Linked DNA regions of Homo sapiens. The protein of the gene in region 2 interacts with the protein of the main gene of each other region in a pairwise test. Each region holds a gene or a part of one and is shown on either strand. Other genes may lie near its edges. The genes, in order: BIVM, SPANXN2 and TNNI1.

The links.
Region 1: the proteins of SPANXN2 (region 2) and BIVM interact in binary tests that used the Homo sapiens proteins (3 or more experiments, as listed by UniProt).
Region 3: the proteins of SPANXN2 (region 2) and TNNI1 interact in binary tests that used the Homo sapiens proteins (3 or more experiments, as listed by UniProt).

What each region holds. Positions count from the first base shown.
Region 1 is NC_000013.11:102,819,567-102,823,219, forward strand, and holds part of BIVM (basic immunoglobulin-like variable motif-containing protein), read left to right. Parts: intron 1-1,470; coding exon 1,471-1,566; intron 1,567-2,176; coding exon 2,177-2,281; intron 2,282-2,498; coding exon 2,499-2,593; intron 2,594-3,653. Other genes in the region: BIVM-ERCC5 protein, read left to right, coding at 1,471-1,566, 2,177-2,281, 2,499-2,593.
Region 2 is NC_000023.11:143,711,408-143,714,709, reverse strand, and holds the end of SPANXN2 (sperm protein associated with the nucleus on the X chromosome N2), read left to right. Parts: intron 1-2,210; coding exon 2,211-2,675; 3' UTR 2,676-2,755; downstream 2,756-3,302.
Region 3 is NC_000001.11:201,411,689-201,415,341, reverse strand, and holds part of TNNI1 (troponin I, slow skeletal muscle), read left to right. Parts: intron 1-87; coding exon 88-129; intron 130-692; coding exon 693-824; intron 825-2,220; coding exon 2,221-2,310; intron 2,311-3,653. UniProt on the Homo sapiens protein: Troponin I is the inhibitory subunit of troponin, the thin filament regulatory complex which confers calcium-sensitivity to striated muscle actomyosin ATPase activity.

The DNA.
Region 1 (3,653 bases), on a different chromosome or scaffold from region 2:
ACGTAGGGAGGGAACAACACACACTGGGCCCTGTCGCGGGGTGGGAACCGGGGACAGGAGAGTATCAGGAAAAATAGCTAATGCACACAGAGTGTAATACCTAGGTAATGGGTTGATAGATGCAGCAAACCACCATGACACACATTTATCTATGTAATAAAGCTGCACATCCTGCATGTATACCCTGGAACTTAAAAAAAAATATTGAAGGGTCATGGTTAACTTGTATGTGTGCCAATATGCATAGTATATATACATATACAAATGCATATATGTACACATGCATATGTCTAATTTTTCATTTTGTAATTAATTTTTAGACCACACTAAAGTTGCTCTTAGTGATGATAGGGCTTGTTTCTTTGTTTCATTGTGGCTACTTCTTAGCACCTTCTTTAGAAAGCAGTTAGGAGAAGATCATTTGAAGGCCAACGAGTGTTGTGGGTTATTGTTAAGCTGATTTAACATTATCTCCCCCCACAACCACGCTTGACTAGCTTCACATTTGGCCAGGTGCAGTGGCTCACGTCTGTAATCCAGCACTTTGGGAGGCTGAGGTGGAAGATCACAAGGTCAAGAGATTGAGACCATCCTGGCCAACATAGTGAAACCCTGTCTCTACTAAAAATACAAAAATTAGCTGGTTGTGGTGGCGCACGCCTGTCGTCCCAGCTACTCGGGAGGCTGAGGCAGGAGAATTGCTTGAACACGGGAGGTGGAGGTTGCAGTGAGCCAAGATTGCACCACAGCACTCCAGCCTGGGCGACAGAGTGAGACTCTGTCTCAAAAAAAAAAAAAAAAAAAAAAAAGAGAAAGCAAACGTATTTCTTCTTAAAACAGAATAAATAAATAGTCTGTCTCTTTCTCCTTCTGTTCACATTTGCCCCAGTTTCTTCTCTTGAATCATGACAGTTTGGAAAATTGTCTGGATTGCTTAGTGCCACTGAATCATGCCATGGAAGGATTTTGTATTTCACTTTTAAACTTCTCTGTGACAGGAGAAGCACTGCTTCATGGCTTCTTGCCCAAGGATTTTAGATGGACACAGTGGGTAATAAATGGATGAATTTTTGTTTGGGTTGAAGAATCTCTCTGAGAAGTTGACACGTGGGGGCAATGGTTTGTTTCTCTTGTATTTCTGAAGTTGCAAATAATCATGTAAGCAGTTCAACCAGGAGTTTACACCAAACTTTTAATAGGCGATATATCATTATTTTTTTTCCCATTGGTTTGGATAACATCCACTTTAACTGGCAGTTAGTCATACTTAGCTATTTTTGTTAAAGCAGGTGATTTATTGTTATTTTATATTTATGACATGATTAATAAGTGAATATGGAAGATTTTACATTGACTTAGGGGATCAAAGTTTTCATTATATTAACACCTTTAATTGCCATGAGTTTTCTATTTCTAGCATGCATATTTTGTGTTCATTCAAGTGAAGAAAACAGTCTTTTGTGTTCTCAGGTACTGCATAAGCCGACCACAGTATAAGACTTCTTGTGGCATCTCTTCATTAATTTCTTGTTGGAATTTCTTATACAGCACAATGGGAGCTGGAAAGTAAGTATGTCAATTTATCAGTACCCCCAAACTCCAAAGTAATTTGATGTTGCTTTTTCTATAACAGAAAAAAATTTAAGAATAGATTTTTTATAAATTTAACAAAACCCTGCTGTATTTTAGTGTAAGTCTTTTAGCTTAAAATATATACATGTATTATTTTCAGTGAAATAAAAATGGGCTGGGTACAGTGGCCCACACTTGTAATGTCAGCACTTTGGAAGGCCAAGGCGGGAGTATTGCTTGAAGCCAAGGAGTTTGAGACCAGCCTGGGCAACAAAGCAAGACCCCACCTCTACAAAGTAAAAAAATAAAAACAACTAGCCAGGCACAATGGCATGTACTTGTATTTCTAGTCTCTTAGGAGACTGAGGCAAGAGGATCACTTGAGCCCAGGAGTTTAAGGCTGCAGTGAGCTATGATCACGCCACTGCACTCCAGCCTGGGCCACAGAGTGAGAACCTGTCTCTAAAAAAATAAATAAAATAAAATAATGAAAAATATTACTAATATTATTTGCAAATCAGACAAGCATATTAACATTGAGACAGGCTGTATTTGCGTATGACTGGAATTGAAAAATGAAAGGCAATGAATGTTTCTTTTGTAGCCTTCCACCTATTACCCAAGAAGAAGCTTTACATATTCTGGGCTTTCAACCTCCATTTGAAGATATTAGGTTTGGTCCTTTCACGGGGAATACAACACTTATGAGGTATGAAGACCCTCTTAGAGGCAATATCGTGTTTCTAGTTTTGCAAAATAATAATGATGTAGATGTGTGTTGATAGTAAACCATGTATCCAGCTGCTGGGCTTCAACCTCTCATAGGTATACCAACTTTGGGCTATGCCTGAATTTCTTTAGAATTGGAATAATGCCATCTTTGTTGTAGAATTGTTGCCATGAACAAATCTTCTTGTTACTTTCAGGTGGTTTAGACAAATTAATGACCACTTCCATGTAAAAGGATGCTCTTATGTTCTATATAAGCCTCATGGGAAGAATAAAACAGCAGGAGAAACTGGTAGGTAAACATATAGAAGATTTACATACACACATACACACATGCACACACACACATACACACACACGGTTTAGAGTTCGTCTCAAAGACTGCCTGTTTAGCTTCCTGGGACATTATGTAAACCCTCAGCACAGTCTGTTACTTGCATGTAATCTGTAGGGCACTTTTTAATAAGCAGTTTAATATTTTACCTCTTCTAACCTTTTTATGTAGAACCTTTAGAACTTTAAGGTATATCACAAACACTACTCTAACACATTGTATTGTTTGGGTCCGTGGTGTGTGTGTGTGTTTGTGTGTGTATGTATGTGCGTGTGTACGCGCACATGCTAGTAAAACTCTAAGGAAGCAGCATGGAGTTAGCAGTTTTCTTCCTAAGAAGGAATGTAAGGATTTGAGAATATTTGATGTTAGACCTGTGTGGTGACATATAATGGCAGGAAAATAGACTGTTGAAGTGACAAAGTTCTGCTATAAAATAGTCTTGTTTATAACAGAAATATTAATGGAGTTGATCTCAAGGATTATTTTAGTTATGTGCTAATTAAATAATTTGTACTATTTAGCAATTTCCATTTTTAAAATTGTTACAATCTTTTGACTGTGTAAATCAGAAAATTGTAATACATTGTTAAAGAAAAAATTATTCTGACACTTGTTAATAGGGTGAGAAGACTTTATTTTAAACTTGTGAAAGGCCTATTGTAGTAGGAATGAGAGATCAGGCTCAGCTCTGAATACAGCAAAGACAACAAAGACAACTGGGACTTTATAGCCAAGGGACACAGCGAGGGGTTTGGGGGTGGGATATTACTAAGAGGGTCAAGGGTATGGGGATTCTTGCTAAAGCCTAACAGACTTCTTGCTAAAGGCAGGTCAAGGGCTGAGACATCAGGAGTTGGCAGGGGACGTCCGTAAGGAACTTGATTAGATATTAAGGGTTGTGGGTTCTCTCTAAACTGACTTAGCAGGATTCATGCTAAAACTGGACACAGAAGTCTAAGGTCCAGGCCTGTTTGAGAAGAGGACTCAAGGATTAATCAGGAAGAGAATTGTTATC
Region 2 (3,302 bases):
TAAATGGAGGTAGTTTTTGCCCTTATTGGTATTAGGGCTTAAGGTGGCATATTTAGTTGTGACTTTTGAAAGGCAGGAGAGGAAACGAGCAGGGACAGCTTTATTTATGCCAGCTAGAAGGCATGATATCATATGGCCTGATTTCTGTCTGTCTACTGAAGTTGCCTGATAATTCCAACTGGGGCCAGTTCTGGGGACAGCTAGGGTCCCTATTGGATTATGAGCAGCATCTTGTTGGTGGAGGGTGTTCTCATGGACCTGGGCACCCATAAAGATGTGTTCCCTGTCCTCCAGGGTGAGGGTAGAGGAGAGGATGACATATATGTCATGCCAGGTAAGGTCATAAGATTTAGGGAAGTACAAGAATTCCTTGTGGAAGGAGGTTGGATCCATTGAAAAGGAGTCAAGTCTCCTTTCAATATGGGAAAACTCAGCTAGAGAGAAGGGAACTTGAATTCAGATTATGCCTTTAGCCCTCGCAACCTCCTGCAAGGGAAGGACTTTGGAAGGCCTTTGGGCATGTGCCTGGTTCCTAGCGAAAGGGGGTTGGGTGTGAGACCTGGTTTGAGGTGGAGAAGGAAGGGGGATGGAGGGCGACAGTAAGGGGGTGGAGGAGCCGGATCCGAAGGAGAAGGTGGAGGGAATGGGAGAGGGCAGGAGGCTGAAGAACGGGTGTGTTGGCCAGGTTGAAATTCAGAGGAAGAAGACTTGTCCGGAGGAAGAGGCATTTTGGGGGGTTTCTCCTTGAGGAGGAAGATTTGAAAAGGTGAACAAGATTGGCAGAGAGAGAGAGAGAGAGAGAGAGAGAGAGAGAGAGTGAGGCATGAAAGGAGATAAGCAAAGCACTTCAGATTATTTACCATTGCATTGAAGAAAGTTTTTTAGATTATGTTGAATTTGGAAGTTGAATGTTTTGTTTTTTGGAAGAGGGGAGTGAATACTCTGGATGGGAGTGACTACCCCTGAGGAAAGTGAGTACCCTGGAAGGGAGTGAGTACCCCAGGGGTGAGCGAGTACTCCAGAGAGAAGTGAATACCCCATAGGGAAGTGAGTACTTGATTCCTCCTGGGAGAAGGGACCTGGAGAGTTGGGGCAGCCCCGTACTATTCATGCTCCCCAGAGGCCAGAGCAGCCAGAGTGGCAAACGTTTTGAAGGTGTACCCTAAGAAGGGAGGCTGCAGTCACCTGGTGACTGGGGAGACCTCTCACCCAGCACTGGAATTTTTTGGAGAACGGGCAGAAATAGAGAGGAATCTGGAAAGGAGGAAGAGGGAGACTCACCCACTAATTGAAGCCCAGTGTTGGATGTGATGTCCAGAAATGGGGGTGATCCTTGTTGCAGCTGCCCGGAAACAGGAAGGAACAAAAAATAAGGTGGCTTGTTTGATCACTATCTGGAGGTTAGCCCAGGTCTGGAGAAGACTAGAGAATAAGGAGAATGGGACTGGGAACAGGGAGTACACTCAGGATCTGGAAGCAGGCCCTGGTCTAGTTTGTGCTGCTTGCTGCTTTCCAGGTTGCAAGAGAAAACTTACCCATTAGAACCCAATCACCACTCCAGGTTTTGGCACCAAAATGTTAGGTTTTGAAGGGAAGGCAAGGATGAAAGAAAGACACACAGGGGGCAGCTCAAACAGCAACACAGGAATATGGCAGACACCTATGGAAGTGGAGGACAAGCTTAATGCCAGAGCCCACCGCCGCTTACAGGCTGGGGTACTTACAGGGATGGGCAGGAGGGATCTGGGCAATGTGGGATGCTATCCGGCAGGATATTGATAAGATGTTCTTATGATCAGGTGGTTTGGCCCTTTTTCCAGTGGAATATCATTGTGGCGTTCCTTAGAACTTTGCCAAGCAAGATATGATAGGAATGTTTCTTTAGTTGGGCCTTTGTCCGCCCTGTGGTCAGGTGGTTAGGCAGGATGTTTCTCACGGCCTGAGCCCCCATGGAGTGTCTCACTTTGACCAAGGTCTGCAAAATAGCAAAGAACTTGCGAAATCGTGCAGTTTGGACTAACAGATGACCCTACCCATGCTCCTCTTCTTCTTCCCCATAGATCACTACCCTATGATTCCACCTTGTTCTTCTCTGGCACAAACCCCTTCCTCAACCTGCATTCCTTCTCATAAAGCCCCCCTTGCTATCCAGTCTCTACCCTATTCACCCAAAATAATGACTTTCTGGCCTCTCCCTGTTTTCTTATCAGATGCAGGAGGCACCGAACAGGGTCTTAGCCCCCAAACAGAGCTTGCAAAAGACAAAAACAATAGAATATCTAACAATAATAGTGTATTACTACAGGAAGCATACGAAAATAAATTCAAATCAACTGGAGAAGGACCAGTCCCGAGAGAACTCCATCAATCCAGTCCAAGAGGAGGAGGACGAAGGCCTAGACTCAGCTGAAGGATCTTCACAGGAGGACGAAGACCTGGACTCATCTGAAGGATCTTCACAGGAGGACGAAGACCTGGACTCATCTGAAGGATCTTCACAGGAGGACGAAGACCTGGACTCATCTGAAGGATCTTCACAGGAGGACGAAGACCTGGACTCATCTGAAGGATCTTCACAGGAGGACGAAGACCTGGACCCACCTGAAGGATCTTCACAGGAGGACGAAGACCTAGACTCATCTGAAGGATCTTCACAGGAGGGTGGGGAGGACTAGTCAAACATGGAGAAACCAAATTGGACAAATCCTCACTACCAATGGCGATGATTACAATAAAATCAAGTTTGAGGAGCTGATGACCGTGTATATCTCTGCCTGTTGTCTGATGGTGGGAAGGAAGGGAAGGGAAGAGGTAGGCATTTGAGAAGGGAAGGATATGAGATCCTGTAGGGTTGGCGGACAGACCCACAGGTTGACAGTTTCCCAGACATTGTAAATAAGGCCTGGGGGAGGACTTATTCCTAGAGACAAATTTTCTTCTTAAAATTTTATCTAACAGGAGAGGAAGAAAAGGACTTGGTGTTTGGAGCATGTGAATATGTAGAAGGGCATTTAAAAAGATCTGTATTGGCCGGGCACGGTGGCTCATGCCTATAATCCCAGCACTTTGGGAGGCCGAAGCAGACGATCTCCTGAGGTCAGGAGTTCGAGACCAGCCTGTCCAACATGGCAAACCCCAGTCTCTACTAAAAAAAAAAAATACAAAAATTAGCTGGGAGTGGTGGCAGGTGCCTGTAATCCCAGCTACATGCGAGGCTGAGGCAGGAGAATCACTTGAACACAGGAGGCGGAAGTTGTAGTGAGCTGAGATCTGGCCACTGCACTCCAGTCTGGGGGATAGAG
Region 3 (3,653 bases), on a different chromosome or scaffold from region 2:
CTGGCTGGCACTTGTCTTGTCCTAGACCAGAATTCCAGTTCTGCAGCCTCTGCCTCACCACCTGTCTCTCTCTCTTCTTGCCCACAGAGAAAACCCAAGATCACTGCCTCCCGCAAACTCTTGCTGAAGGTGAGGCTGGGGGCTGGCTGTGGGGGGATGCCCAGTGGGAGGCAGAGGGGCAGCAGAGCAGACTCTGAAGGGATGTGGAGGATTATGGCAAGGAGAAAGGAAGGAGGCCAGAGTGAGGATGATGAGGGGCAGGAGTCCAGCATTGCTGGAGCCAGTGCCAGGCTCAGGTGATCAGTAGGTGGGATCCTCGAGTATGGATTCTGGCATCCGCCTGTGGTCCCTAGAGTAGGTGGTGACCAGCTTCAGAGTGGGAAGCTACTCATGCAGGCAGAGGGACTTCCTTTATTTTCATATGTGTTTCTCTCTTTGGAGTTTTGTGGGTCAAAACAGACAGTAAGTGGATAAGAGGAAGACTGTCCGGGGAAAACAAGTTCCAGGGCTTGAGGAACATTGTGTGCAGCCACTGGGTGTACCCTCATGGTGGCCTGTCCATGGCTGCTGCATACACTTCTACACTGGACAGTGGTCTCAGAGTTGGCCCAGGCTGTGGCTGCCCTCCCCTCATTCCCTGATGCCGGGTGGGAGATGTGAGGCCCCCAGCTCAGCAGGTGTGTCCTGTCCAGAGCCTGATGCTGGCCAAGGCCAAGGAATGCTGGGAGCAGGAGCACGAGGAGCGCGAGGCTGAGAAGGTGCGCTACCTGGCAGAGCGCATCCCCACGCTGCAGACCCGTGGCCTGTCCCTCAGTGCCCTGCAGGTTAGCCTGGCAGGTGGGGCGGGGCAGGGTGGGGCTGGAGGTGCTGTGTGGGTGGCTCCAAGGACCAGGCGGCAGGAGCCTGAACTAACACCAGCTCAAGGCTCCATAATTTACAGGGCACTCCTCCCTTACATGGTCTCATTTAATCTTCACAACCACCTGTGAGGTGGGAACATTAGATTCCATTTTACGGGCACTGAACTGAGCATCAGAGGGGAGGCGTGACTTGCCTGGGCTGGGCGGCCCAGCTTCACAATCAGCCAGTGTGGTGGCATGGAGTGGGGAGGCGGCCGGGGTTGGGAGAAGCCCCACTTTTCCAAGGACTTGTCTACCCTTTCCTAGAATTTGGTCTTCAATGTTTTCAGAACACTGGTAAATTGGTTAAATGCCAGTGATTATAGAGAAAAGAGACTGGAAGGAAGTATATCAAAATGTTACTAAGTATCCCTGGGTGGTGGCATCACTAGGTATTTTAATTTTTATTATTTTTGTTTAATACATAGTTTTCAAAATGTCTAAAATTAACGCATTACTTTTATCATAAGAAAACTATTTTATTTTGCTGGGCACAGTGGCTCATGCCTGTAATCCCAGCATTTTGAAAGGCGGAGGCAGGAGGATTACTTGAACCCAGGAGTTCGAGACCAGCCTGGGCAACATAGTGTGAGACCTTTTCTTTATACAAAGTTTAAAAAAATGAGATGGGAGGGTCACTTGAGCCCAGGAGGTTGAGGCTGCAATGAGCCATGATGAAAGAATACTTTTTTTTTTTTGAGGCAGAGTCTCATTCTGTTGCCCAGGCTGGAGTGCAGTGGCGTGATCTTGGCTCACTGCAACCTCTGTGTCCCAGATTCAAGTGATTCTCCTGTCTCAATCTACTAAGTAGCTAGGACTACAGGTGCACACCACCATGCCTGGCTAATTTTTGTATTTTTAGTAGAGACAGGGTTTCACCACATTGGTCAGGCTGGTCTTGAACTCCTGACCTCAGGTGATCCCCCACCTTGGCCTCCCAAAGTGCTGGGATTACAGGGATGAGCCACCGTGCCCAGCCAAGGATACTAGTTTTTTGTTTGTTTGTTTGTTTTTTTGAGACGGAGTCTCGCTCTGTCACCAGGCTGGAGTGCAGTGGTGTGATCTCAGCTCACTGCAACCTCCGCCTCCTGGGTTCAAGCGAAGGAATACTATTTTTTAAGAAATCATGACATTCAGACAGGAGAACAGAGGGCATACCCTTTGAGCTATTGCCCGTCATGAGCCTCAGAGTGGAGGAGACTGTCAGCTCCTCTCTGGATCCCAGGTCTTGCAAAGGGGCTGGGGAGAGGGTCAAGGGCTGGAAACTGATGTCTCTGTTCCCCTCTTCTTCACACCTGCATGATCCATCTGCGGCCCCCAGGACCTGTGCCGGGAGCTGCACGCCAAGGTGGAGGTGGTGGATGAGGAGCGATACGACATTGAGGCCAAATGCCTCCACAACACCAGGGAGGTGAGTCTAAGGAAGGGAAGGGGCATGGCCATAATGGGTTGGGCAGGGGCATGGGCACGGATGCAGCAGCCATGGGAGGTCCCCTCCTTCCACAGGGCCTAGGAAGGGGCCACTTAAGCAGGAAACTTTGGTTTGTCTGCCCTAGCCCCATAGGGCTGGAGATGGGTAGAGTGGATAATCACACATGAAAAGTACAAACTTCCTCCCTACCTGCCATGTGGGCTCATCAGCCTAACAGAAGCTGCTCTCTTTATCCACCCACACAAATAATCATATGCCTGTTAATAACGTCTTACCTTTGTGAAGTGCTTTCATGTTCGTTATAGCCTTTGATCCTCCTTATAGGCCTGTGGATGAAGTAGGGGCTATTATCTGCACCTTGCAGAGGAGAACACTCAGGATCAGAGAGGCCAAAGACTTGTCCTAGGTTGCACAGTGGTGGTCCTGGGACCAGTGCTGGTCTCTGGCTTCCACTCCGGTGCTCTGTGCTCCCTTAGCATGGGGTGTGGGAGGATTAGCTCCACCCAGACCCTGCTCCAGTGGGGAGGGGCAGAGCAGAGAAGGACAGGGCTCCTTTGGGGCATTTGTCCAGGCAGTGAGGAGGGGGCAGGGAGGGAGCACAAGCCACTTCTCTCCTTCCCACTTCTGCCCACCAGGAATTATATGTGGGGTCACCAAGCTCCTAAGAACTCCCCCTAGAGATCACACCCTGGGAATTCCTCCAGGGGTCTAGGACCTGTAAGTTTATCACCCTGCTGGACCAAGGCTGTGAGCTGCTTTGAAGGCTCACTGGGGAGGAATAAGTTAGAAGCAGGGATGAGGCTGCAGGAACAAGAGGAAGCAGCCCTGCACTCCAAATAGGGCTTCCAAATCAGACAAGTCTCAGTCTGGTGGAGCCGCCCCTTTTATTCAAGGCTATAGTGTTAGCAACGGCTAATAGGCTTTATCTGTCCACTTAACCATCCGTTTATCAGCAAATGTGCAGTGGTTATTTGCAAAGGGATGGGTGGGTCTGACTGTCCTAGAGCAGGGATCTCCAACTCTTGGGCTGTGGACCAGTACCTGTCCGTGGCCTGTTAGGAACTGGGCCACACTGCAGCAGGTGAGCAGTGGGCAAATGAGCATTCCCGCCTGAGCTCTGCCTCCTGTCAGATCAGCGGCGGCATTAGATTCTCACAGGAGTGTGAACCCTATTGTGAACTGTGCATGTGAGGGATCTAGGTTGCACGCTCCTTATGAGAATCAAACTCATGCCTGATGGTCTGAGGTGGAACAGTTTCATCCTGAAACCACCCCACCACCTCTCCGTGGAAAAAGTGTCTTCCACAAAACCGGTCCCTGGT